2 separate regions of the Homo sapiens genome follow, and region 2 is linked to region 1. The links come from fine-mapping of genetic effects on gene expression. Tissue or cell type: whole blood. Region 1 holds a variant in brackets; the other region holds the start of a gene. All regions are shown on one strand. Distances are between the middles of the regions.

Region 1 (15,032 bases):
TCATTCCTCCCTGAAGGCTATTTCAAAGACAGTTGCTAATTAAACCCTGATGTAGCATGAGGAAAATGAAAATGCCAGACCCTAAACAAGAGTAAAAACTAGGAAAACAAAAAAACAAACAAACAAAAAACACCAGGTCTCCAGTTTCTCAAACGTTAAAAGGCTTCAAAAAGGGGACACTACCAGACGCACACAAAGGAAAGGTTACAAATAGCTGCAGCAGCCAGAAGGGGGATGAAACCTAGAGATTATCAGCTTTTTTTTTTTTTTTTTTTTGCTACATTCATGTCTGTTTTCAGGAGGCTCCTGACTTTCCTGTGAAACAAAAATATCTGGGTGTGGGGAGAGCTTTGGACATCAGAGAGACCCCGGAGAAGTCACTGCGGCCCATCCTGGTGCCCATTCATTTGAGGCTGAGGCTGGAAACACGGAGACCTTCCCCGTTTCCTAGGTCTGGGCCTGACGCACAGGAAACTTCTCTCTTGATTAGACGCCCACTGAGCCCAAGGTTTAACTTTCCATCTTCCATTCCAACACACACGCCCTGCCACTCTACCGAGAGCCCAGTCACGGGGGCTTTTCCAACAAACTCGTCCACCCATGACCATTGTAGGCAACCTCCAAGACTCCGTTCACAGTGAACCTTGCCTTTTTCTGCAAACCCAGAAACTAGCCTTTAAATTGCTCAGGGAATATTCTCCAAACAGCAGATTCATCCTTATTCAGGGTTTTGGCAGTCAAAACTCAGGGGTCAATTAAGCCACGCCAAGCCCTCGTGCCTTAATCTATTTCCTGAGCATTTCCCTGCCATGGCTGGGGAGGGTAGAGGATGGTGTCAGCCCCATCTAGAATCACGCTGGCCTGACACAGACCTCCCTTGCTGAGGTTTTCCTCTAGTCCAGCATAAAGGGGTTTTCGACCCTCTCTCTTGCAAGCATCGAAATAAAATTATTCAGACACTCTCTAGCTACTTCAGATGAATTGGTCACAGTCACGTGACACATCTGGATATTTCCTTTCAAAACAGACTTCGCAAGTGAAATGGGATCCAGATGTTTTGAGCAGAGGTACATCCAGTCCCCTTCCTAGGTGGTACCCACATAATGAAGACTCAACATAATTTGACTTTTGTGTATACTTCTTATTTCCCCGACTAGAATGTAAGCTCTTTCAAGACCCCACATGAAACTTGCCCGTGGCCCTTAGCACACTGTTGGCCCACAGTTGGTCCTTAAAAGCTGCTCTAATTAAAGAAGCAATAAATAACACAGACAGTTCAAGTGTATCAAACACAAGCCAAAGTCAAGAACAAAATGTTTCCTGAACAAGGCTATACAGATGGATTTAGATTTGGAAAAATCTTGATCCTCTTGTTAATTAAGACTACTCATAAAGCAAACAACCAGATTTAAAAAAAAATAGCTAGCTATTTTGACCTGAATAGTTCTTTACATGGAAGCTGTCTTTTTTTTTTTTTTTTGAGACGGAGTCTCGCTCTGTCACCCAGGCTGGAAAACAGTGGCATAATCTCGGCTCACTGCAAACTCTGCCTCCCAGGTTCACGTCATTCTCCTGCCTCAGCCTCCAGAGTAGCTGGAACTACAGGTGCCCGCCACCATGCCTGGCTAATTTTTTTGTATTTTCAGTATAGACAGGGATTCACCGTGTTAGCCAATATGGTGTCGATCTCCTGACCTTGTGATCTGCCCATCTCGGCCTCCCAAAGTGCTGGGATTACAGGCATGAGCCACCGTGCCCGGCGGAAGCTGTATTTCTAAAAAATCTGCATGATAAACTACGTAGATAGCATTTATTAATTAATTAATTTATTTAGAGATAGGCTCTTGCTCTGTTGCCTAGGCTGGAGTGCAGCAGCATGATAGTAGCTCACTGTAGCCTTGACCTCCTGGGCTCAAGCGATCCTCCCGCCTCAGCCTCCAGAGTAGCTGGGACTACAGGTATGCACCACTGCACCAGACTAATTTTTTAATGTTTTTGCAGAGATGTGGTCTCTCTATGTTGCCTAGGCTGCTCTCAAACTCCTGGGCTCAAGTGATCCTTCCGCCTCAGCCTCCCAAAGTGTTGGGATTACAAGCATGAGCCACTGTGCCTGGCCACAGACAGCATTTTATATTTCAGAAATCGTAAACCTTCTTTAAGACGCAAGTCAAATGCTTGCCCATATTTTATTGAGCACTTACTAGGTGTGTGCCAGGCCCTGTGTGGAAAGCTTTCTAGGCACTCAAACAGTTTATCTATACAATGCTGTGGGAGGTTCTAATACCATCCCCAGTGCATGGGTGATAAAACTGGCGTAGTTGTTCCCTGGGGCCTTCCTGACCTCTCCAATAGATAGTACTCACTTCCTCTCCTGAAACTCTATTTGGCACTTTCTGTGCTTCTCTTATGAGACACAGCAATTCTCCCATGTGCACAAAATAATGGAGACACCATCCTGTCCCCTCTGCTGTACTGTAAGTTCCTTAAAGACAGGGATATCTGATTCCAATGGTACTCTGCAAAGCAGGCTATCCAGGTGCTGTTGACAGAAGGAGGTTTGAGGACCACTGTCTTATTAAAGCAGCCCATTGCTGGTAATGAACCAAGCCTATGAAATGAATGGGTGGCTTATCAATAACCATTATTATTAGATGTCATTTGAGTACAGATAATTGTGTTTCCAGTAGACAAAGAACTACCCCAACCTCAGCTCTGCCAGTCTCTCAACCTGTCTCCCACCTCTCCCTCCTCCCTTCCCCCTCCCCTCATTCAGCTCCAGGAACATTGGCACTTTCCACTGCTCCTTAACTGTGCCACATCTTCTGCCTAGAATGTTCTTACTTTAGATTTGCATGGCTCAGTCCCTCTTTTTTGTTTTGGAGACAGTCTTGATCTGTCGCCTAGGCTGGAGTGCAGTGGTGCCACCTCAGCTCACTGCAACCTCTGCCTCCCAGGCTCAAGCAATTCTCATGCCTCAGCCTCCCAAGTAGCTGGGATTACAGGCATGTGTCACCACACTTGGCTAATTTTTGTATTTTTCAGTAGAGATGGGGTTTCTCCATGTTGGGCAGGCTTGTCTTGAACTCTTGGCCTCAACTGATCCATCCACCTTGGCCTCCCAAAATGCTGGGATGACAGGTGTGAGCCACAGCGCCCGGTCCCAATCCCTCTTTTATTCACATCTTTTCCCACATATCCCCTCCACAGAGCCGTTATCTGACCATCCCAACTCGACAACAGCACCTCACCCCATCACTGTCTATGGCATCACTGTGCTTCATCAATATTTTCAAAGCCCTGATCACTGACATCATGCTATACATACTGTGCATTTGCTGTCTGTTTCTTCCCGCTTAGAATGCACACATCAAGAGGTTATAGAGGGCCAGATGCAGTGTCTCATGCCTGTAATCTCAGCACTTTGGGAGCCCAAGGCAGGAGGATCGCTTGAGGCCAAGAGTTCAAGACTAGCCTGGACAAAATAGCAAGGCCCCATCTCTACTCGATAGATAGATAGATAGATAGATAGATAGATAGATAGATAGATAGATAGATAGATAAATAGACAGATACACACACACACACACACACACACACACACACATTTATATATATATATATATATATATATAATTAGCCGGGGATGGTGGCATGTGCCTGTAGTCCCAGCAGCTCAAGAGACTGAGGGGGGAGGATCATGGCGCCACTGCACTCTAGGCAACAGAGCGAGGCTGAGACCCTGTCTCTAATGAAAAAGAAGTATGGTGTCTTTTGAGGAAAACACAGGAGGCTCCCATGTTGCTTGCGCCTTCTGCACGAAATGCTGGCAGGGCAGGCTTGCCTCTTGTTGAGAGTAGAAGTGAGAGCCCAGCTGACATTCTAGGTTCCTTCCAAGATCCAAAGTCTCAGAAAAATGCAATTGTAGAGATACAAAAAAAGTTCAGACATCATCTCATGCAAGACTTCTTCTTAAGCTGGGATCCTTGAGTCCCCAAAGATTTCTAAACTTCCTAAAGTTGTATGTGAAATGTCATCGACAGACATATGCACCATTTTCTGTGGAAAGAATCCACAGCTTTCATTACAGTCTCAAAGGAGCTTTATTTCTCAAAAAGTTAAAATCCTCTTGGCATCATCCTTCATTATAGATGAAGAAGCAACTTCTGGAAGGTCAAATAGCTGGTTAGTGGCAGAGTTTGAAGCAGAATTCACATGTGCTGATTTCTAAGCGGTCTCTTGCCTCCACCCCGCTCCCTCACAATGTTCGCTTATTGAAAGGAAGCATCCTTCCCTGGCACTGCCAGACTGGCATCCTGGACCACTGGGCTCCCAGAGTAGCGACCTCATTGTGTGTCTGCCTGAGCCTCGGGCAAGACCCGCCATGCATGACTTTCCCCTTCCTAACAATTTAATTATTCACGAACTTGCGTGTGGTGAGAACATCAGACAGGGATGACGGCGCTAATGTGCTCTGAGCCTCCTTCAAATGGCATTTCATACTAGAGCAGTGCACCCGCGGCATCTTCACAGACCCTCCCTCACCAGATGCCCTCAGCAGATAAAGAACTCATTTTCCTTTCCCTGCTGCTAATGGCTCCAATTTTCTTGTGATTTTCTGTAATGGTAAATGCCAACAAAACATCACCCCACCACATGTTCCTACTGGCTATTCTTTCAACATCATGAATTCCAAACCAGCTCTGCTGGAATGAAAAAGAATGAAAAAATAATATTCACAAGTCATTTGGGAGGAGTGCAGGGAGGGAGGGAAGGCAAAGAAATGAAGGTCATGGGCATATTTTAACCTCAATCAGAAGCAAGTGATTTGTCCTCTATTCTTAAGAAATTTGCTATATAGGCATACCTAGGAGATACTGTGGATTTGGTTCCAGACTGTGCAATAAAGCAAATATTGCAGTAAAGCCAATCACACAAATTTTTCGGTTCCCCTGTGCCTATAAAAGTTATGTTTACACTACAGTCAATTAAGTGTGTAATAGCATTATGTCTAAAAAATGTACAGACCTTAATTTGAAAATATTTTATTGCTAAAAAAATGCATATGATCATCTGAGCCTTCAAGGACTCTTAATTTTTTGGCTGGTGAAGGGTCTTGCTTTGATATTGATAGCAGCTCATGGATCAGGGTGGCAGTTGCTGAAGACTGGGGCAGCTGTGGCAATTTCTTAAAATAAGACAGCAATTAAGTTTGCCAGATCAATTGATACTTCCTTTCATGAAATATTTCTCTATAGCATGTGATGCTATTTGATAGCATTTCATAGTATTTCACCCACAGTATAACTTCTTTCAAATTTGGAGTCAATCCTCTCAAACCTTTCCACTGCTTTGTCAACAAGTTTATGGATTATTCTAAATCCTTGGTTGTCAACAATGTTCACAGCATCTTCACCAAGATAGAGTCCATCTCAAGAAACCACTTTCTTTGCTCATTCATAAAAAGTAACTCTTCTCTGCTCAAGTTTTATCAAGAGATTGCAGCAATTCTCACATCTTCAGGCTCCACTTCTAATTCTAGTGCTCTTGCTATTTCCACAACATCTGCAGGGACATCCTTCACTGAAGTTTTGAACCCCTCAAAGTCATCCATGAGAATTGGAATCAATTTCTTCCACACTCCTACTAATATTGATATTTTGACCTCCTCCCATGAAACATCAATATTCTTAGTGGCATTTAGAATGGGGAATCCTTTCCAGAAGGTTTTTAATGTACTACACCTAGAACCATCAGCGTAATCACTATTTATGGCAGCCACCATTTCATGAAATGTATTCTTTTAAATAATCAGACTTGAAAGTCAAAATTATCCCTTGATCCATGGGCTGCAGTATTCATGTTGTGTCAGCAGGCATGAAAACATTAATCTCCTTGTCCATCTCCATCTAAGCTCTTGGGTGACCTGGTGCATTGTCAATGGGCAGTAATATTTTGAATCAAGGAATCTTCTTTTTCTCAGCTGTAGGTCTCAACAGTAGGCTTAAAATAGTCAGTAAACCATGCTGTCAACAGATGTACTGTCATCCAGACTTTGCTGTTCCATTTATAGAGCACAGGCAGAGTAGATTTAGCATAATTGTTAAGGGCCCTCAGATTTTTCAGAATGGTGAAAGAGCACTGGTTTCAATTTAAAGTCACCAGCTGCATTAGCCCCTAACAAGAGGGTCAGCCTATCCTTTGATGCCCGTCACTGACTTCTCCTCTCTAGCTATGAAAGTACTAGACAGCATCTTCTTACAATAGAAGGCTATTTCATCTACACTTAAAATATGTTGTTAGTGTAGCCACTTTCATCAATATCTTCACTAGATCTTCTGGATAACTTGCCACAGCTTCTATATCAGCACTTGCTGCCTCACCTTGCACTTCTATGCTATGGCAATGGCTTCTTTTATTAAACTTCTTTCATCAAACTTCATGAACCATTGCTTTATTGATCGACCATGAATCTTATGGTCGATCAATAAAGTGATGTGCTATATAGAAGGAGGTATGTCTGCATTCATAGAAAGCTCTGCAAAGTACCCTGAGTTGCCACATAAACTTCTTCAGTGATGCCACGGTATTGCAAGGAACAGAGACTCACTCAAATTGCCTCAGAAAAGGGATGTTTTAGACCTGGACTTGGAAAGCTGCTAAGAACAGGGGCCACTCTAGGGCTGTAGGGTCTCTCCACATCTGCTCCCCTCTCTCTATCAATCAGCTTTTTCAGTTTCCTTGTGGTTTCCATTCACAACATTGGCTTCCACATGGCTTCAGGTTGCCACCAACTCAACTCCCAAACGACATCCTTTTAGCTTTTGCCCCTGTGGCAAAACATATTGGTATTTCCTCATTCAAATTCCCAAGAGAAGGAACCTGATTGAGTACTTACTTCTTTGCGTCAAACCATATGTCATTGTCCAGGCTACGGAATGGCCTCTAGGTAGTGTGTCCATCCAGGGACAATCAGTGATGGCCACAGGAATCTTAGATGGTGTAAAACGAGGCTACCTAGGCCTTCCCTGGGTCTTCTATCCAGGCTGTGGGCAGGCAGGTACTGTAACTATTTGTCATGTAGGAACTAGCCCAGGTTTTTCACAGAATACTGGAGCAAACTTGTACTAGTTTGGAAGGGCCAACTGTTACATTTTCAGGAATTTTCAGGAATTCTGTGAGCTATCTCTTAATCCACTGCTGGTCTGAAATTGGCCACTGTGGGAGTATTTACACCACAGATATTGGTGAATGCTACAAACTCAAGTTTTTTCCTCCCACTCTACAGAGCTAGTTTACCAGCACACTATTGCAGCATG[A/G]ATGGTTAAAGAGGAAGAAAAAAAATCAAGGTAAACAAGTCTCCCCATAATCTGACAAAATCTATATCATTTCCCTCTTTTCCACTTTACCCACCCTTTGCTTCAGCAAGAATGGACAACTTCCTCATTATCCACTTGCCACAAATAACTGCGTTAGGGCCAGGGCTCACGCTGTGCCAGGTCCCCAGCCTTCCCAAACCTGATGTCCATCTCTATAAAGTTCAACTACTTCCCTGAAGCTTCCTCAACTCCCTCAATTAGAATAATCTCTGCTTCTCTAAACTCCAATAACCCCAACTGGACTTTTTTTGCAACTTTTTTCATGTTCAGCCTTCCTTTCCCTGGAGTTATTTATGGCTTTATACTTGGGGTCTTTTAATTCATTATAAACTTCCCACAAACAGAATCTATGTCCACTTCTCTTAAGTGTTAGGAGAAGTATCAATTAAGTGTGCAATGGCATTATCTCTGAGTATTCCAAGTGCTAAGTGCATACCTCCTACTCAGATACCTGGTGAATCGGTGAAGATGAACACAGCATTTATTTGCACAAGTCTTCAGTAACCCATGTCTCTCTCCCCTTCCCACACCTACAATTCTAGACCTGCAAACTCATGAGTTCACCAGCTGATTTGGGCCCTGACAACTGAATCAGCAACAGCAGGATTTTCAAGGCCAGAAGGCTGCTAAAGGCATGTATCTGATGTGCATGTGAATTACTTTCACTAGATTCAAATCCCTGTAAAAGAGGAGGGAAAAATCTAGGATTAAACTACAGAGATTGAACTTTGATCTGGCAACAGTGGACTCGTATTTCAAATAACACGCAACTCCCTGTGTCTCAGTCAGCTTAGGCTGCCATAACAAAATACCACACACCATGTGGCTTAAATAACAGAAATGTGTTTTCTAACAGCTCTGGGGGCTGGAAGTCCAAGATCAAGTTACCATCATGGTCAGTTTCCGGTGAGGGCTCTCTTCCCGGCTTATAGGTGGCCACCCTCTCATTGTATCCTCACATAGCATAGAGAGAGAAAGAGAAAGACAGAAAGAGAGAGACAGAGGGAGAGAGAGTGAGAGACAGCAAGAGCGAGAGAGAGGGAGAGCGCTCTCCACATAAAAGAAGAGACCAGGCACAGGGGCTGACACCTGTAATCCAAGCATTTTGGGAGGCTGAGGTGGGAGGATTGCTTGAGGCCAGGAGTTCAAGACCAACCTGGCCAACATAATGAGACCCTGTCTGTACTTTAATTAACTTTTTAATAAAAGACATTTTTAAAAATAATTTTTTTTAAAAAAAGCACTAATCCCCTCATGAGGGCCCCACCATGAACTCATCTAAACCTAATTATCTCCCAGGACCCATCTCCAAATACCATCACACTAGGGGCTGAGGCTTCAACATAGGAATTTGTGAGGGACATAATTCAGTCCATAGCACTCTGTTAAAATCAATCTTCCTTTAAATACTTTGGGAAAGACGACTGAGAGATTTGGGGAAATCTGAGAAGTGGAAACCAGATGAAAAAGATCACAAGTTCAGCCTCAGGGAGAGAAAATTAGTTCTTCCTATTAACGTATGACTTAGCCAGTCTGAAGAGTATATGAAAGCCGCCAAGAAGTTAGAAGAAAGACTACTGGATTACCATCGGCATGTGAAGAAAATTTGGCCATAAAGTAATGGGGTTCTTTGCACCAAACCTTTGTAGACAAAGTTTCCTCAGTAAGTCTTCAGGCAGAAAGTTCAATGGCATGTCAACTTTAGATCCTAGCAGTTTTTAGTCCATTAATGTGGCCTAACAGGCATCGCTTAATTCATTTGCAGAAATTTTCAACAACTGAAAATTCATCACACTCTGAGAATCTAGAAGGTAATAGAAAATATTATCTCTGTTTTGCAGATGGAAAAACTAAGCTAAAGAGAGTCAAGCCACTTGGTCACTCCTGTAACAGAGACTGAAATACAAACCCAACTTCCTAATCCTGGGATCAATACTTCTGTTAGTTTCACTCCATGCACTATCCCCCAAAAACCTAAATGCCCCTAAAATTTTAAAAAATTTCTTGTATTAAAAAGTTAAAGTACAGACAGGGTCTCATTATGTTGTATCGACTATGAAGTCGATAATTCCTGAAGTTACTTCTATGAAGTCTATAATTCATCCAAACACATGCTATTAAAAAAATTGGCAAAGAATTCTCAGAACTGAGGCAGATAAATGAACATGGTATAAGTAACTATTTCTGCAAGAAAAACAAACAAACCCTCTAATCTTCCAAAAGTATAAAATCCTGTCACTCAAGGCTGCTGATAAAAGCAAGAAGATAAAGACATCTAAGACGAAAGAACACGTTTCATTTTAGATATTTCTATTTCCTCCATCTGTATTTGTTGAGGAGCAATTTTAGGAAGGCAGGATCACTGAGATGCTGTACTTTTCCTAAGGTTTTACAACTGTTAGCTAATGCCTCCACAACATGGGATTTTGTACCTCAAGTCCTAAAAGACATTAAACCAAAAGTAAAGAGAGGCGAAAAAAGGCAAATAAAAGAAAAAATCACTATGTCCATATGTCCTCCCTGACAGATTCCAATCTGATCTTTAAAATTGAGTCTTTTGGGCCACAAATGAGAGGCTCTCTCTTTTCCTGGTCTAAAATCTATCCCCATGCCACCACATTGTATCAGAATCGAAATGTCACCAGAGGAGAGTGATACAGGGTTTGCTTCACGGAGTGAGCTATTTGTTTTTGAAATAAGTCATGTTGTCAGAATCGGAACTGAGCAAGTATACCCATTTCTCATTCAGGAAAGAAAATATAAGACGGATTCAAAATTTCCAAGGCTCTTGGCTTAGATCACAGCTCAAACATGAAAAGAATTCTTCTGTAGCCTCAAACTATTTCTGAATTTGTGAGCTTACCAGTGGACCTCCCTGAAGCTATCAAACAATTTGAAAACAATCTTGAGCAGCAAATCTAATTCCGCCAAAGATAAACTGGATGCCACCCTCTGCCAAGCCATGTAAGGATCTTCTGAAAAATGACTCCAGTATATTCTATATGCAAGCAACTCTTTAATTCAAGAAGACATCAGCCTTCTTTGAGGCAGGCTTTCAGGCACATAAGATAGTCATTCAGGATTCTGTCATCAGTGGATTCCTATCCTCATATTCTATGATGATCTGGGTGTTAAGACCAGAAATGGCTGGCCAAGAGCTACTGGTCACACATCCATGAATTCATGACACTGGAGATGTATTTGGTAGCACTCTTATCAAGCTAAAGAAAAGGAAAGCAGCCATTATGAATCCCTGCCTACTGCTTCTATGTGTGTTTCTATAGACTCTTTATCTTACACAGTAGTCTCCTAGTGTCCCCTGTGTCACCTTCTGTGGCTTCAGGTACTCAAGGTCCAAAAATATTAAATAAAAAAATTCAAAAACAAACTGCCGGGGTATTGCAGTGCTGGTGTTCAAGTCACCCTTATTTTACTTAATCATGGCCCCAAAGTGCAAGAGTGGTAATACTGGCATATTGTGTTGATTGTTCTTTTTTATTATTAGTTATTGTTGATAACCTCTTACTGTGCCTAATTTAGAAATTCAGCTTTATCATAAATATATTTGTATAGAAGCAGCATTGTATATACAAGCTTGGGTACTATCCGTGGTTTCAAGCATGCCTTGAGGATAAGGCGGGACTACTGTGTGATCCTCACCACCATCCAGCCCAGCAAGACCCTGGAACATAAAAGGTGCTCAGTGAACATGGGCTTCCTCAGAACAGTGAGGTGGGTTAGCCACAGTAAGGGGATTCACACGCAAGGTGGCGTGACTCAAAACATTTCCGTTAGTTTGTTGTGTGTGAATTCATTCATTCATCCATTCCTCTTAGGATTCCAGGCTGTTCTAAGCCAGTGAGTGAGTACCACCCCAAAAGCACAGGATCAGAAGAAAGTAACAGTCCCATCACCCAGAGATCCCTGGGAATTCAAATATTTTCCAGGGGTGGGTGCGGTGGCTCACACCTGTAATGCCAACAGTTTGGGAGGCCGAGGCAGGTGGATCGCTTGAGGACAGGAGTTCGAGACCAGCCTGGCCAACATGGCAAAACCCTATCTCTTCTAAAAATACAAAAATTAGCTGGGGGTGGTGGTGCATGCCTGTAGTCACAGCTACTTGGGGAGGCTGAGGCAGGAGAATCGCGTGAACCCGGGAGGCAGAGATTGCAGTGAGCCACGATTGTGCCACTGCGCTCCAGCCTGGGTGACAGAGCGAGACTCTGTCTCAAAGAGAAGAAAAAAATATATATATATATGTTTTTTTCCCAGGAAGATTCTTGCAAGATAAGGCCATTTCTGGCCATAAGGCTCTAAAATCAAAAATATACTCAAATCTATTCTGAACTTTGAGGACAGGTTCTGAGCCAACCAGTATTAACTACTTGGTAATCAGCCCCACTCTGCAAACAAAGGCACCTGATTGCCAGGCTAGGGTACTGTCAGGGAGGCTGCGACTGAGCAAACTTTCAGATAGCTATCACGTACTGCCCACTGTACCAGGAAGTGTGCTAATCTTATTCCTTCCGTCTTACTTGACTTAGAGCCTTATATGACTTCACAAGGTAAAGAGTAATAAAAGTTAGGAGACTTGGACTTCAAAAATCCCAGCCACAAGCAACTACTCTCCAAAACCTCACTCTGCAGCCAATGGCTCTTGCATCCACCTTGACGATTCTGATTTCAAGCATGGCTTGGCTGCCCGGCTCCACAGCCTGCAGGACTAAAGGTAGTAATCAGCGTTCTAAAGTTAGCTTAACCTGTTGCCCTAAACAAGTCAACATCTGTATCTCAATCTTCTTCAGTAACTCAAACATATTTTTTAAAAGGCATGTAATGTTAGTGATACTGTTAGACTATAGAAATAATTGTATATAAATGTTCTCTTTCACTATTGAAATACTTTGTTTTATGTAATGCTACTAGTGTTTTGTATGTCATGGGACTAAATATTACCTTATCAAAATAATACAATTACATCATACTTTATTGTCTTCAAACAGAGAGAGGAGACGAAGCCTGAGGCTAATGGTTTATTCACCATGAAATAGCCATTTAGGCCGGCCACAGTGGCTCACGCCTGTAATCCCAGCATTTTGGGAGGCCGAGGTGGGCGGATCACCTGAGGTCAGGAGTTTGAGACCAGCCTGACCAAAATGGTGAAACCCTGTCTCTACTAAAAATTCAAAAATTAGCCGGGCATGGTGGCATGCACCTGTAATCCCAGCTACTCAGGAGGCTGAGGCAGAAGAATTGTTTGAACCCAGGAGGCGGAGGTTGCAGTGAGCCGAGATTGCACCACTGCACTCCAGCCTAAGTGACAAAGCAAGACTCCATCTCAAACAAAAAAAGAAGAAGAAGAAATAGCCATTTAGATCCTTAAACAACCAACAAATTAACACTACAATTAATAAGATGTAATTATACAAGTTTTAAAAAGTAGGATTATAAAGAGATGAGACCAGCACAGGCATGTTTTATTTTGCCCTTTATTGAAGTAAAATATTGGATTTGGTTTTTGTTGATTAACAAAGAGATGGTCATAAGTAACTAACTGAATGGCAGAAAGCAAAATGTATTAAATTACAGATGGTCTATTCTAAGGTAACAAAAATGTGCTCTTATGTTTTCTTCTAAGAGCTTCCACTGTTTTATCTTTCATACAGCTGGAATCAATTTTTTATGTGGTATTAGGTAGGGGTCCTGATACATTTTGTTCAGTATAGATAAACAAACGACTCAGTATCATTTTTTGAAAAGATCATCCTTCAACCACTACATGCCACTCTCACCTTTGTCAACACTTTATCTATCACTGCGTCAGAATCTTTTTAATGGCTATATAGTTTTCCATTGTATGCATGTGCTATAAATTACTAAATCCATCCCCAATTAGCCAACACTTGAGAGTTTCCATGTTTTTGGTATAAATAATGCTATAATGAATAACCTTGTCCATGTATTATTCCCCACATGTGGAGTATATTTGTAAGATAAACTCAGAGAAACGGAGTTGCTAAGTCAAAGGGTATGTGCATTTTTAATCAATACATGATAGAGGTTATACCAACTTTAATTGGAATTTTCAAGTCACAATGAACTCCAAAGTATTATGATAAGATACAGCACATTGCCATTTCAGTTACTCCAAAGTTCCCAACATTTTTGGCCCTTAGGATTCTTTTATAAAAGACATCAAATGTATAACAATGCTTCCAGTATCCACTGATTGAAAGTATATATAACCACATAAGTTCACAGAAAATGTGCCTCAGTATTCTGCAAAATGTAAATTAACAAATCTAAAACAAATCATGCAGTCACAATTGGATAGACAGGCCTTCTCTGCTTATGGTAAAGAACAAGGGCAACTTGCTGTTTACTTTTGTTCTGAAGGAAGTTCAAAGCTCAGCACCAGCACCAGCACCAGCACCTCTGGTTCCACGTGGGTAGATATTGCCCCATTTCAGGAGTTTGCTCCCGATGGAGAATGACAGTGATTGTCTCTGCATGAGAAGAGGCTGCATCTCCTCCTCCAGAGTAAAGCTGTCCACTCCCAGCAAAGAAAATAGAGCAGAAGTTGGTTGGGCGTGGTGGCTCACGCATGTAATCCCAACACTTTGGGAGGCCAAGGCGGGAGGATCACCTGAGGTCAGGAGTTCAAGACCAGCTTGGCCAACATGGTGAAACCCCGTCTCTACTAAAATACAAAAATTAGCCGGGTGTGGTGGCAAATGCTTATAATCCCAGCTACTAGGGAGGCTGAGGCAGGAGAATTGCTTGAACACAGGAGGTGGAGGTTGCAGTGAGCTGAGATGGTGCCACTGCACTCCAGCCTGGGCAACAAAGCAAGACTCCGTCTCACAAAAAAAAAAAAAAAAAAAGAACAGAGCGGAAATGGAAGCTGAGGGAGAAGGCGCTTACTCACTCAAACTTTTCCTAAGTCTTCAGAAGATGACATCACATTTTATTTGAAATACAGGTCTGAAAAAGTAGAAATGTTCTCTCACATCCAGGTTACTAACATAATCCTTTATTAGCAATACATGACCCTTTCTTCACCCCTTAAACGTTTACTTTGCAAAACACAGTGATGTTCATTCTCAAATATGCCTGTGATGTAGTAACAATGCCACATTACTTATTAATTTTGCAACTGATGTCATGTCAATACCACGGTGCTAAGGACTGAAACCACGTGAGAAGTCAGTGGCCAAACCGTGCAACCCACAGTGTCACTTCCACTTTGCAGGCTCAAACCTCCTCAAACACACTTCCTTCCTAGAACTCTTAAAAAAGGGAAGATATTTAACAGCCAAACCTTACTTATAACAAAACCTCCACCTGGAAAAAACCCAGGAGACACAGGCATCTTCCCCTTTGGATGGAGAGGGGAGAATTTACTCTTCCAACCTTAAGGAGATCTGATTAACAAACCCCTCTCCAGAGTTGTAAGTAAGGAGAAAGATAGACAGCAAGTTGAAACAAAAATTTGCTACTAGCTGTGTGACTTTTAGGTAAGTCATCTGATGTCTCTGGGGCTTTTTTTCTTCTGATAAAATGAGGGTGTTAGCCAAGAGGTAATACTTACAAACTCCGGCTCTTAATATCTTCTGATTCTACATACAAGAGGGCAAAACTGTTAGATTTTGACAA
Region 2 (15,032 bases), 22 kb after region 1:
AACGGCTTAGCATTATTGCAAAAAGAAAGTTTTAATTTCATGGACCCCCCCCATTCTGAACGTGTCTCCAAGACCCCACATGTCCCTGGAACATACTAAAATAAAGGGTTCAGAATGGTACCTCACAAGAGAAGTTCTCAATGAATACTAATTCTCTCTTCCTTTTGTTCTTAGCCTCAATGCTGTTAAAACATGACCAAGTTCAGGAGATCAAGACCATCCTGGCTAACACGGTGAAACCCTGTCTCTACTAAAAAATACAAAAAATTAGCCTGGCGCAGTGGCGGGCGCCTGTAGTCACAGCTATGCGGGAGGCTGAGGCAGGAGAATGGCGTGAACCCGGGAGGCGGAGCTTGCAGTGAGCCGAGATCGCGCCACTGCACTCCACCCTGGGCGACAGAGCAAGACTCCGTCTCAAAAAAAAAAAAAAAAAAAAAAAAACCCATGACCAAGTTAAGGCCAGGCCTTCTTCGGGTCATTATAATTATATAATATCCGGTACAGTGTTATGTGCAAAGAGGTGGTCAACAAGTATCACTGTCTTGCTCAGATGGCACTGTAACTAATTAGCTATGTGATCCTCAGCCAAGGATACTTAATCTGTTAAATCCAGAGGATCCACGAACTTGAACAAGAAAAAAGTTACATCTCTATTTTCTGACATTCAGCACTCACTTTAATTACGACTGTAGCCAATAAACCGCAATTGCACTACTAGCGCCTGTGATACTGTCACCAATAAAACAGGGATTTTTATATCATAGTATGGTTACTGCAGATATCTTGAAAAATCATATATGCTCGTGACTAATTCAAAATTATGCTAGTTATTAGACCTGTCACTAGATCTTGGTACTTTATGCATTAATAAAGAAGTACATATACTGCAGTATCACGAACTTTGAAAAACACCTTCACGGCCTATTTCAATACGGCTGTTTTCATTTTCTATCCTTTGTAATTTACTTAATTTTTATTTCTACAGTGACTTGGAACTTTGTATCGTACTTTATGCATTTAAAAACATTCTGGGCCAGGAGCGGTGGCTCACGCCTGTAATCCCAGCACTTTGGGAGGCCAAGGCGGGCACATCACATGAAGTCAGGAGTTCCAGACCAGCCTGACCAACATGGTGAAACCCCGTCTCTACTAAAAATACAAAAACTGGCCGGGCGTGGTGGCGTGCGCCTGTAATCTCAGCTACTCAGGAGGCTGAGGCAGGAGAATCGCTTGAACCCAGGAGGCAGAGGTTGCAGTGAGCCAAGATTGCACCACTGCACTCCAGCCTGGGCGACAGAGCAAGACTCCATCTCAAAATACAAACAAATAAGCAAACAAAAACACAACAAAAGCCCAAGTCTGAAGTCAGTCTTAAATCAGCATTCAAAGCTCTACTCCGTTAAGTCAGATGCTTCTAAACAACTAAAGAGCTTTAAACAAGTAAACACCTGAAGAGCTAACTAGTAATATTTCCCAAAACTGCCTTTTGTTACATCATAAAAATATATGTGATCACAAATCCCAACATGCAACAATGAGCTACTTTTCAAAGAATAAGGCTGGGTGTGGTGGCTCATGCCTGTAATCCCAGCACTTTGGGAGGCTGAGGCAGAAGGACTGCTTGAGCCTAGGAGTTCCAGACCAGCCTGGGCAACATGGTGAAACTCCATCCCTACAAAAAATACAAAAATCAACTGGTTGTGGTGGCACGCACCTGTAGCTCTCAGCTCTCAGCGGGCTGAGGCTGGAGGGTCACTTGAGCCCAGGAAGTTGAGGCAGCAGTGAGCCATGATTTTGCCACTGCACTCTATCCTGGGTTACAGAACGAGACCCTGTCTCAGAAGAAAAGAAAAAAAAATCAGCCAGGCTCATGGCTCACCCCTGTAATCCTAGCAACATGGGAGGCTTAAGGCTGAAGGAGCACACGAGGCCAAGAGTTCCAGATCAGCCTGGACAATATAGAAAGACTCCATCTTTAAAATGATTATTTTAAAAGTTTAATATTTTAAAACTTAAAAAATCAAAAAACTTAAGCCAGGCATGGTGGTGCACACCTGCAGTTCCAGCAACTTGGAAGGCTGAGATGGCAGGTTGCAGTGAGCTATGATCATACTGTACTCTAGTCTGGGCTGTGGAGTGAGGCCCTGTCTCAAAAAAAAAAAAAAAAAAAAGAAAGAAAGAAAGAAAAGAAAAGAAAAAAAAGCTTTGCAAAGAATCCATAGTCAACCTAATCTGGGGCTATTCTTTACATAATGGCTTGTGTGGAAGCAAACTTAAAAATAAATGTTTTTATAATCAGACTATTCTGGATATTTATCACTAATGTTTGCTTAAAAGTGTTTTATATCTTCATATGCTCAAACAGAAAAAAGAGAGAGAAAAGAGAAACAAAGAAAGAAAAAAGATGAGAAAAAAGCACATTTTCCACGTCTCCAGGGAAGAACACTTAGCCACTGAGCACTTAACACTGGGGTACTAGAGCACCATAAGTTTAAAGAATCAAATAGATCAGTCACTTCACTTGATAACACACAGAAACCATTGAGATCCACTTAATGCTAGAGCCTGAGCCAACACTGCTGTTTAAGAACTAAGAAAGCCCAGACAGGCTGCATTTCAGTCCCTGTAGAAACATCTAGGATATGTCAGGAACAGCCAAGAGTGGCACCAAGATAAAATATGACAGTAGCGACTGCCAGCTTCAGCAGGCACAATTCATACTGAGTCCAAAGCTCTATCCTCACACAGACTAGCTCTGCAGAGGCACACTCCTCTTAGAGCACAACAGGCAAAGTCATAGCTAGCTCTGAGTCATCCAAATGCTTCAACATGACTATCCTACGGTTCCTTCATCCAGAAACCAAATCTGACCAGTACACACTTAGAGAAGTCCAGAAAGCCAATTTTCCCAACTATATTTAAGAAAGTCTGTCTGCTCCATGCTTCCTTGTTTTCTCAGCAGAATATCTCATTCTCTTACTTGCAGAGATAAAGACAGAGTGGAGGCTCTCCCTTCCTCCATCTAACCAAACAAAATTCAACTCATATTGGGGTGAATGAGATGTTATGCCTAATGGGAAGAAAAAGAAGAGGAAAAAACTGCATTCAATTACCAGACAAGCTAGGTTAGTGTACTTTAGAACGGCACCCCAACATCAAGGACAAGCAAACTGAATGCACTAATACCTGGTACACCTGTTGAGTGCTAGGAATACAAAACCACAATGGTCTGATTCACTGAACCCAAGGATGGCACAGTCCAGGAACTGCGAGGAAGAAGCAAGGAGGTTTGGGACAGTCTGACAAATAGCAAATTTGAAGAAGGGAGTAGGAATGGATTTGAGCCCTCAAGGAAAGGTGAGCTGTCTGAGGCAGAGTTGGGAGGGCACTCCTGGCAGGGACAGGCACAATGGGAGCAAAGTCCCAAAGGAGGGACTCTGCAGGGTATGTTGCACAACAGTGGGAAGGGCAGTTGGTCTGCATTGGAGAGCTAGTGAAAGAAGCCTCGAGAGATAATGCTGAAGATAGGCTGAACCAGATTATAGGAACCTTGGAACGGAGGCTCAGACTTTATCCTGTTGACCACGAGAGACTTCCAAGCAGGGAGGTGACATAAACATAAGCAAGGAGGTGACAAAAACAATGAGTTTTAGCAATAAGCAATGGAGATTTCTCTCTTCAGTTAATTTATCCCAACTGTGGGTCCTTTTGTCAAACCCAGACAAACCAGAATCTATGTCTGGTGAAATAAGTGTTCAGAATTATATCCTGGAGCAGTTTCCCTAACACCTAGGCCCTGGAAATGCAATCCAAATATTTTACACACACACACACACACACACACACACACACAATTTCCACCCATATTTCCATATACATATATATATACACACACACACATATACGCATATATACATATATATGTATATACATATATACATATATGTGTGTGTATACGTGTGTGTGTGTGTGTATATATATATATACGTATATATATGTATATATAGTTTTTTTTTTGAGATCGGGTCTCACAGTATCACCCAGGCTGGAGTGCAGTGTCGTGATGGGGGCTCGGTGCACCCTCAACCTCCCAGGCTCAAGCTATCCTCCCACCTCAGCCTCCTCAGTAGCTAGAACCACAGGCACAGGCGACCATGCCCGGCTAAATTTTTTTCGTATTTATTGTAAAGACCCGTTTGCCATGTTGCTATGCTAGTTTTGAACTCCTGGGCTCAAGCAATCCTCCTGCCTCTGCCACCCAAATTGTTGGGATTACAGACGTGAGCCATCGCACCTGGCCCAAATATTTTTCTTGACTGATAAGTGACACAGTAAACTGACTCCAGAACATAAAAACAAAATATTAAAAACAATTATACTTGCTCCTAGGACTATGGCAATAAAAACCACATTTTTGAAACATGTTTGCATTAATTACCCTCAACTGAATAGTTTTGAAAAGAGCTTTTAATCCTGATAAAATTAGAGTTGATAACATTTCTGTAGTGATTGGGCATTGTAAATATGCTTTCATCTAGGGGCCAGGTGAGGTGGCTCATGACTGTAATCCCAACACTTTGGGAGGCCGAGGCAGGCGGATCACCTGAGGTCAGGAGTTTGAGACCAGCCTGGCCCAGATGGCGAAACCTGGTTTCTACTAAAAATACAAAAATTAGTCAGGTGTAGTGATGCAAGCCCGTAATCCCAGCTACTCGGGGAGGGGGGCTGAGACAGGAGAATTGCTGGAACCTAGAGGTGGAGCTTGCAGTGAGCCGAGATTGCGCCACTGCACTCCGGCCTGGGCGACAGAGTGAGACTCCCTCGTCAGTCCGTCTCAAAAACAAACAAACCAAAAAAAAAAAAAAAAAGAGCCCTGAGGCAGAAGCAACATCTCTACCCATTTCTGAGATGCAGCTAAGGGAGAGACTAAGATTCTAAAAGCAACTTAAGAGCAAAAAAGAAAATGTCTTTTGAATTGAGGGAAAACAAAAAATAATAAATATATAAAGGATCACAACCTAAGAATAATATAGTAAATATGAGACTGTTAAAAAACAAAACAAACAACAACAAAAAACCCTGACTCCTGGCTACAGAGTTGAAAAGCCCCTAGACACGTTGAGTAGCTCTTAATTGAGACTGCACTTCATTAACCAGTGAGGTGAGGAAAAACAGGACCTCAGTAAGGGAGTAAAGTCAAAGACTAAATTACAAACAGGCCAAATGAATGGATCTGAGAGGAAGTGATAAAATTCGCAACACACTCAGCCGTGTTTATTGTAGGGAATCACCCCAGGTCTAACTGCCATTGTAATCACCCCGTTCAGGGCAGAAGTCTTCCCACAGGCCCTCAATAACTTCAATCCTTGATAAAAAGCCAAAGGAGCCTGACTTTCCACCTGGGTCAAAATCCCCGCACATCTATTGTTTCGGAGCCAAAGCACCACCACCAGCAACCCCTGCGCACAACCCGGGGCTCTCCAGCACCGCTGTTCTGAATGCCAAGTGCCCAGCACGGGGTCTGGCACAGTTTCCTTAATAAAATGTCCTCTTCTCGTCTCCAGGATGAAACTCAGGATCCGGAAGGCAGCCTTACACCCTCTCCAGACAGGCTCCGTTAGGGGATGAGTGCGCACAAACAGCCCCAGGGGCCAGCCACCCCCTTCCCGTGCCACAACTTCCTGTCCCTTCCATCACTTCCACGCCACGACTCTAGTTTCCATCCAGCTCACAACTGTCATCAAGATCCCAGTCTCTGGAGGAAAGGGGGCAGGGCGGCTTTCCACCCTCAACTCCTCACTTAAGGGGCGTCTGAGAAGAACCTACGAAAGCGGGGGGCAGAAAGCACTGGGACAATGAGCACCAGTCCATGTGCCGACCCGGGCTGGTCACCTACTCCCAGGTGAAACCCACGCTGGGCGCACCGGGGCGAGCCACAGAGCTGCGGCCCCAAAAGAGCAGCAGGCGCGCCCCCCTCGCGTTGACATTTCCCTGGTGTGAAGTGCCGGAGATTGGGATGCAAGAGCGGGATTACGGTCCCGAAGCTCAGCTGCACTTGGAAGCACTCGGAGTCCCCAAACCCTGGGCGACTTCCCCATCGGCGCTCCCTGGAGAGGACTCCTACCGTCCCCGGCTCCCAGAGCTGCGCAGCCGGGCCGAGCCCCCGGCCAGGGTCCTCCGCCGGGCTCTGCGCAAACCTGGCAGGGCCGCTGTCCGCGAACTTGGCCGCGTGGGTCGGGCCGGGACAAGGTGGGGCGCGCACTCACCAACCCCGTACTTCTGCCTCTTGGTCGGGATCCAGCGGGCCATGGCGGCGACCTCGCCCCGCGGCGGCGGCGACTAAGGCTGCTACAGCTCCTCGGGCTCCGGCCGCCGCCGCCCCGCGCTCCTGCGTGCCCCAGACGCTTCCGCCATGTTCCGCCAAACTTCGCTGGACTCCGCGGGCCGCCTCCTCGCCGCGCCGCCCGCGCCCGTGCCCGTGCCCGCGCCGCCCGCGGTCACCTGCTGGGCCGGGCTGCAGCGCAGCAGTGCGCGCCCCTCCTGGCGCCGCCCCAGTCCCTCCCGCCGGCCGCACCCTCCGCCCGCCGGGGCCGCCTCCGAGCCGCGGGCGCCCGGCCTCTCCCGCCCGCGCCGCTCTCTGCGCTCTGCCGGGCGGGGGCCGACTGCGGCTCCGCCTCGCGCGCTTCCCTGGAGCGGCTTCCTGGGCCGGCGGGACTTTGACGCTGGCGGCACTTTGCCTTTCTCCCGCCCTCCCCACCCGGCTGATACCCCGGAGGCTGGGTCCCGGGGGTCCGGCTCCCGACAGAGGGCTGCGCTGGAGGAGCCGGGCACGCCCAGGCCGGGCGGCCGGTGGGCGAGGGATGCGGGCTGCGCTCCCACGGCGCGCGCCGGACACTTGGGGAGCGGAAACGGATCAGCGAGAGCGGCTTCTTGCTCGGGGCACCTCCGGTGCCTGGCACTAAGCGGGCGCGCAATAAATATTTGTTGAATGAATGAGCAGTTGACTTCTGCCTTCACCCCCTGGAGCTTGAACCCGCGCCGCGAGCGGGAGAAGCCGGACTCAGGGCAGACTGAATCTCCCGGGGCCACCGCTTAGAGCCTGGAAAGCAGAACTTTTATCACCGGAGAGCTGGTGCAAGGGAGGTGGGCTCCTCAGAAGTATCAGACCGTTTGCTAGGGGATCCTCTGCAGGGAAATTGTTTAGAAAGCCCTAATTTGGAAGTCCTGTATCCCCAAACTCCGGGGACCCCCCAACCTTAAGCTGAAGAAACTTAGACCCTCATGCCCAGACCTCCCTTTCCCAACCAGCCAGCAGCCCAGAGAGCATTCCCGTGGAGAAAGGGCCAAGGCGCATCCCCGTCTTTTCTCCGTCAACGACTGCCTTTTCTTGACGAAGATCCCAAAGGGGCTGCGCATTTGAACCGCCTTGGGCTCCAGGTGGCGCCCTCTCTGGAGCTCCCCTCTTGGAATTCATTTCTTCCTGGAGAGACTTGGAGAATGAAGATCCAGGGGTTTCTCCCTACCTTGTACCGAGAAGTAACATTGCAAGTAGAGTAAATGACCAGCTTAATTACGTTCACCTTCGAAGAAGATTCCTCTAGAGAGAAATTATATCCTCCTTGCAGCCTGTGAAGGTTTTCATGCGTTTTAGGAATATAAAAGAAAGGAAGACAAACATGTAGTAAAGATAGTAAAGACAGGTAGTTGGCCAGGCGTGGTGGCTCATGCCTGTAATCTCAGCACTTTGGGAGGCCGAGGCGGGTGGATCACCTGAGGTCACGAGTTCCAGACCAGCCTGGCCAACATGGTGAAACCCCTTCTCTACTAAAATACAAAAGTTAGCCAGACGTGCTGGTGTGCTCATGTAATCCCAGCTACCCAGGAGGCTGAGGCAGGAGAATCGCTGGAACCCGGGAGGCAGAGGCTATAAGTGAGCCGAGATCGCGCCACTGCACTCCAGCCTGGGCAACAGGGCAAAACTCCGTCTAAAAAAAAAAAAAAAAAAAAAAGACAGTAAAGATAGATAGGCAAACAAGGTAACAAGATAGTAAAGTTTCATTGGAGAATTAGTGCATTTTAACTTTGGTGGTTTTTTACCAAACGAGGTCTGAAATTTTTTTTAAGTCCTATTCACGGTGGGTAACTACTAGAGCTGGCTTTTTTTTTCTCCATCAACCAATAGGTATTTATTCACAATGTTTAACAATAATTTAAGAAATTCCTCTGTCACTTTAGACTTGACATCCAGAAAGAATTCCACCATCTTCCCTAAAATAATTTATCTTCCTCCATTAGTATATCATGATTCTAATTTCCCAGGTTAGGTAATTTCTTCTTCCTTCTTCACACACATATTAAATGCCTACACGTTAAGTGCCAGGCATCACTCTAAGAATGAGGGTGCAGCGGTGAATACAGTAGAATGTGTCCCTTCACAGAGCTTCTAGTCTAGACGGGGAGAGTAAGACAGTAAAGAAATGTACACCAAACGAGAGTAAACATTAGAGAAAAATCCAAAGCAGGGAGGATAGGGCGTGTAGGGTGCTGCTGTTTTTATGGAGTGGTCTGGGAATGCAGCTCTGCTAAGCTGAGGTTGAGGTGTAGACCTGAAGGAAGTGAAGATTCCGGGAGAAAGTATTCTGGAAAAGAGGAACAGCAAAGGCAAAGGACACCAAGCGTGTTTGGCAGGTTCCCAGGTCACCCAGAGATCCTAGGTAATGAGAGCTGAGTAACAGGTGAGAGGAAACTTGGTCTAAGAGGCAGAGGAATGCCAGATAGAGCAGAACCCTGGCAGGCATATGGACTTTATATATTACTACTACAAGCGAGGTTTGGAGGGCTTTGAGCCAACCTGGAACATATTGAACTTGCCTGCTGTGGTATGAATCCATTGTAAAGGGGCAAGGGAGGCCCACATGGATGGATGTTGGGGGCTATTTCAGTCATTCAGGCAAGACATGAAGGTAGTTGGGTCCAGGAGGATAAGGATGGAGGTGAAAAAGATGTTGGGTTCTTGACATACGTGAAAATAGAGCCTGGCCAGATGTGGTGGCTCACACCTGTAATCCCAGCATTTTGGGAGGCTGAGGTGGGAGGATTGCTTAAGGTCAGGAGTTCAAAATCAGCCTGGACAACATAGTGAGACCCTCCTCTACTATATATATATCCTGGGCATGGTGGCTGTGCCTGTGGCCCTATCTACTCAGGAGACTGAGGTGGGAGGATTGCTTGAGCCCAGGAGGTCGAGGCTAGCAGTGAGCTATGATTGCATCACAGCATGAAAAAGAACCAAGAGGAGGGCCACATGAACGGCAGGGGGATCTACTACTGTGAGGCTTCAATCTTTTTTGGAAAGTTTTCCCCCAGAAAGAGATATGCTTGTATTTTTCTTTTTTTTTTTAAAGAGCCCTACCCGTATCGTACACCCTTCAGGCCCCACACACCTTGGTTCTTGTCCCTGCATGTGAGATACAAGCTGGGTCAAGAATGACTCTAAAGCCAGCTAGGTCGCACATGCCTGTAGTCCCAGCTGCTAGGGAGGCTGAGGCAAGAGGATTGCTTGAGCCCAGGAGTTCCAGGCTGCAGTGAGCTATGCTGATCAGGTGTCTGCACTAAGTTCCGCATCAATATAGTGACATCCTGGGAGCAGGCGACCACCAGGTTGCCTAAGGAGGGGTGAACTGGTCCAGGTCAGAAATGGAGCGGGTCAATTATTTGGAAAGCCCTAATTTGGAAGTCCTATATCCCAAAACTTCGGTACTCCTCCTTAGCTGAAGAAATTCAGGCCCACATATCCAGGGGGAAATCTACCCCAAGACCTCCCTTTTCCAACCAGCCAGCAGCCCAGAGAGCATCCCTGTGTAGAAAGCAACTGGATGCATCCTTGTCTTTTCTCTGTCACTGACTGCATTATTGACAAAGATCCCGTAGCCGGGACTTCACATTTGAACTGCCTCAGGCTCCAGGTGGCACCCTCTCTTGAGCTCCCCTTCTGATCAATAATGGGATGGCACCTGTGAATTGGCACTGCATTTCAGCTTGGACAACATAGCAAGACCCTGTCTCTAAACAAATATTAATTCAAAACAAAAAGAGTGACTCTAAGGTTTGGGGCTTGAATAGCAAGGGAGTAGAGTTGCCATTGTCTTGGTCACCATTTATATCTATCTTGTCTTCACCCTTTCCTGTCCCAGTTGCTCTGTATCAAAGTTTTCCTTTCAATATTTCTTTAGGACCCACTTCTTCACGCCTTCCTCAGCAACTTCTCCATGTGGCCCCTTAGGAGCTAAAGCGCTCTGCACTGGATTATATGACTTGCCTGTTGTGGACTCAGGGCTTCTCAAAGTTACATGAATTCTCCGTGCTTAGGGAAATTGGATGACCTCTGTTCTCTGACCAAAGGTATATTTCAAATGTACCATACATCAGAATGTTAATGCTCTTATCCAGTGGAACTGGGTTTCTACCAAAGCGATTTCAACTGCCTCATCCCACTTTTGCATTGAAGTCTTCTTCTTCCAAAACTAGAGGTTTGAATTTGGGTGCCAGAGATTTCAAATTTGACAATGGCTTTAAGAGAGTTGGAGGAAAATGGAAAATTTTAATTACAGCTTTCAGTATGTTTATCATTTCCTTTTGAAAACTGAAATCCACTCACTTTGCTATATCAGATGGCTAAATCCTAGTGTGAATGTCCTTTTAAATCATAAAAGCAGAGCTTTTCAAAGTCTTTTATTAGAATGAGGCTTAAAATTAGACAGTTAACCAGACAGGCAGTTGGAATGACAGCGTGATGCCCAGAAATACCCTTTTTTTTTCCTCTGATATCTTTTCAGAAGAAACATTAAGCATATTCCACAGAGATCTTCAGACTCCAAAACCCACACAAATACAAACACACTTAAGCACGCACAGACACTCACAGGCTCTGCTTGAAGGAGCCATGGAGAAAGAAATGAGGGTAAGTGGCTTTGAGGGTTAGTTTGACATGAGTATTGTGACTAACCCTTACAATGCCTTAGAGAATAAATGGACAGGATGTGAAGAGAACTGGCAAGAGCCTCACCTCCCTGTTGATTACCAGGCTTGTTTTTGCCAAATCAGGCTGGTCTGATGGCTTCTCTATGAGATGCTGTGGAGTCGTTTAAAGTGTCTTTTTTCTCTCTCTCTCTAGATAAAAGAAGATTATTCTGTGATCCTATACGAGTCAGTGGCTAATGGAACTACCAAAAAAATGATAACAATGCAAATAATGTAATTGGTTCTAAGCAGTGCTTTGCAGGCTCCTAAGGATGGTTCTAAGTAAGCCAGGAGTAGGTGATACATTGTAATTCTGGGACCCATGAGCTTAGCAGGACAAAGGAAACCATGAATCACCCTAGTCCCAGAAGTACCTTTTCATAGGCCCCAGGGATTCCAACATCATTATTCACTCTCCACTCTGCAAGTGACTTAGGTCGTGAGCATCTCTGAGTCTGCACAGGCTCTGCCATGTGGCTGTGGGGGTCCGGCTTCTCTGATGGATGGGAAGATAATGCTCGGGGCTCCAATGCTATTATCTCCTCATCTCTGTCACAAGGAGATTTATACTTATGATTTACCCTTTTCATGAACATGGGAAAATTCTTTTTTCTAGTGTTGTTTCTGGAATGTTCTTTGCTGTGTCTAAATGAGCTGATTCCACTGTTGGGAGAGGTGGATGATGTGAGCAGTAAGAAGGCATTAGTTTCTTGAAAACTAGATCCATATTTAGGTGAGATGAAATCAAACTACCTGATTTTAAAAAAAACAAACTATGTTTATTTACCGTATGTCTTGATTCCTATATACATTGAAAAATTATATTCATAAAACTGTTTAAAATAAGAGATGATGGGCTGGACGCAGTGGCTCATGCCTGTAATCTCAGCACTTTGGGAGGCCAAGGCGGGCAGATCACTTGGGCCCAGGAGTTCGAGACCAGGCTGGGCAACACGGCAAAACCCTGTTTCTACAAAAAATGCAAAAATTACCAGGGTGTGGTGGTGTGTGTCTGTAGTATCAGCTACTCAGGAAGCTGAGGTAGGAGGATTCCTTGAGCCCAGGAGGTGGAGGTTACAGTGAGCTGATGTGGCACCATTGCATTCCAGCCTAGGTGACAGGGGGACCCTGTTCCCCCTGCCAAAAAAAAAAAAAAAAAAAAAAAAGAACAAAAAGAGAGATGATGAAAACTTAGAAGAAATGTGGAAAATGTATAATGTAGGCATAAATGAAAATAATTAGATTGTCTATGCCGCAAAATGATTGTAGCTATAGAAAGTCATAGATTTACAGGGAAAATGACCATAGAAGAACATGAATAAATGACAAATTTTATTCAACCTTCTTCAAAACAAAATAAAGAAAAATACTTGATTGCTGAAGTCTCTGGGCTATGTAGCAAGAGTAGGAAGTTATTTGCCTAAATCTGATCATTTTTTGTGACAAGAGTGAAGTTTCACTCTTCAGTTCCTTGGGCACACGGACACTATGACTATCTTGTTTAGACGACTGTCATATTCAGCAGATTTTTCTTCCTGTTTGTGGTCAGTTAAGAAAACAAGCATTTAATCCAGAACTTGTATTTAATACCAGAACGATTTTATTTTTTCACAGCCACCAACTGTAAAGTAACAATAATAACTGCGTATGAAGTAATGAGTACTGGCTCCAAATCACCTTGTTTAATCCCCATACAACCTAATGAGGTAAATATAACTCTCCGGTCATTCCCACCTCACAAATGTGGCTTAGGAGGTGTCCAGAAATTACCTACATAATTAATTAGTGGCAAAATAAAATCCAGACCCAGACAGCCTGACTCCAGGGTCCATGCTCTAAAGCAGAGGTCTGCAAGCTTTTGCTATAAAGGCCCCACTATGGATAGTTCCCAGGCTTTGCAGGCCATATGGCCTTGTTGCAACCACTCAACTCTGCAGTTGTAGCAGGGAAGCCTCTATGAGCAATACATACAATGAATTGAGTGTGGTTGTGTCCCAGTAAAACTTCATTAGTTGTGTTAGATCAAGTTTAGACTAAACCTGCCTCCTTACATATTTTAAGTTCAGCCTAAAGGTTTCTCTGTACATAGCGAACTATAATCTCAATGGAAGTGTAAACAGACCAAAACCTATTCTTGTGCCAATCACTGAGTTTTGGCCAATCAGAGGAGGCAAACTGTTAAAACTGTCTTCAAATAAGGTAAACGCCCAGCTGCTGAGCTGTAACCAATCCGCCTGTTTCTGTACCCCATTTCCGTTTTCTGTACCTCATTTCTGTTTTCTGTACATCACTTTCCTTCTTCTGTTATAAATCGTCTTCCACCACGTGGCTGCACTGGAGTTGCTGAGCCTACCCCGGCTCAGGAGGCTGCCTGATTCTCAAGTCGTTCTTTGCTCAATTAAAGTATGTTAAATTTAATTTGGCTATGGTCTTTCTTTTAACAGTAGATTTGAAATTTGAATTTCATGTATTTTTATGCATATGAAATATTATTCTGGCCAGGTGCAGTGGCTCACCCCTGTAATCCCAGCAGTTTGAATGGCCGAAGTGGGCAGATTGCTAAAGTCCAGGAGTTCAAGACCAGCCTGGGCAACATGAAGAAATCCTGTCACTACAAAAAACACAAAAATTAGATGTGTGTTGGCACACACATGTTGTTCCAGCTACTCAAGAGGCTGAGGTGAAAGGATCACTTGAGCCTGGGGAGGTTGACCTTGTAGTGAGCTGCGATTGTTGTGCCACTGCACTCTAGCCTGGGCGATAAGAGTGATACCTTATCTTAAAAAAAGGAAAGGAAAGAAAAGAAAAGGAAAGGAAAGAAAAGAAATATTATTGTTTATCCTTCTTTTGATGTTTTTCTTTATCATTTAAAAATGTAAAAAACATTCTTATCTTGGCCAGGCGTGGTGGCTCACCCCTGTAATGCCAGCACTTTGGGAGGCTGAGGCGGGCGGATCACGAGGTCAGAAGATCGAGACCATTCTGGCTAATATGGTGAAACCCCGTCTCTACTAAAAATACAAAAATTAGCTGTGTGTAATGGCATGTGCCTGTGGTCCCAGCTACTCAGGAGGCTGAGGCAGGAGAATGGCTTGAATCTGGGAGGCAGAGGTTGCCGTGAGCAGAGGTCACACCACTGCACTCCAGCCTGGTGACAGAGCGAGACTGTCTCAAAAAAAAAAAAAAAAATTCTTATCTTTATCTTATCTTTATCTTGCAGGCTGCGCAGGAGCAGGTGGTGAGGCAGAGTTGGCTCTTGGGCCTTAGTTTGCCAATCCCTGCTCTACACTATGACTGTCACCCCTTTAGGTGGGTGGGAAGGCTGGGGGCCTCCAGAAGGAGCAGCATAACTAAGGAAGCATGTGTGGTGCTTTCCCACTGGAAGTCTGTTTGCATAAGGATTTGTGAGAAGCCCTTGGAAAAAAAGTCATGGGAAGAGGAGGACTCCAATAGTAAAAGTTGCCATAGAAATCAGAGGATGGGGGCACTTCTGAGAGCAGTGAATATCGTGTGTTGGGGAATTGTCTACTGGCCTAGCCCTTTGAACTCTATTCCCAGTGATAAGAACTATAAATATAAAACTTGGCTGGTCACAATGGCTCATGCCTGTAATCCCAGCACTTTGGGAGACTGAGGCGGGAAGATTACCAGAGGTCAGGAGTTCGAGACCAGCCTGGCCAACATGGTGAAACCTCGTCTCTACTAAAAAGACAAGAATTAGCAGAGCATGGTGGCACACGCCTGTAGTTCCAGCTACTTGGGAGGCTGAGGCAGGAGAATCGCTTGAACATGGGAGGTGGAGGTTGCAGTGAGCGGAGACTGTACCGCTGCACTCCAGCCTGGGCGACAGAGTAAGAGTGTCTCAAAAAAAAATTTTGACTAAGCCCTGGTAAGATAGCAACACACAAACAATGCTTTGGTACCCACTGAACAAGCAGGCTTCTACAGAGGGGAGTGTGGCATTCTCATGGGTATCCCAATGGAAAAGACATGGGGCCTGCCTGAGATAAGGG

What was found. PIP is the estimated chance that this variant, and not a neighbour inherited with it, causes the effect.
Region 2: DOCK5 starts here. The variant in region 1 is fine-mapped to the expression of DOCK5 in whole blood (TOPMed, PIP above 0.99).

The regions. Positions count from the first base shown.
Region 1 is chr8:25,198,609-25,213,640 of GRCh38, reverse strand. The region is part of intron 1 of DOCK5 (dedicator of cytokinesis 5); the gene reads right to left. Among named protein-coding and RNA genes, the nearest start is that of DOCK5, 21 kb to the right of the region's middle. RefSeq lists a silencer at 14,518-14,607 and an enhancer at 14,760-15,032. The variant A/G (reference allele first, on the strand shown) is at 7,317.
Region 2 is chr8:25,176,186-25,191,217 of GRCh38, reverse strand. DOCK5 (dedicator of cytokinesis 5) reads right to left here and starts at 6,529. Exons shown (of 52, transcript NM_024940.8): 1 at 6,267-6,529. The coding sequence starts at 6,309. LOC124901912 (a long non-coding RNA gene) reads left to right here and starts at 6,841. Exons shown (of 2, transcript XR_007060861.1): 1 at 6,841-10,401; 2 at 11,174-13,437. RefSeq lists silencers at 6,232-6,281, 6,452-6,621, 6,632-6,711.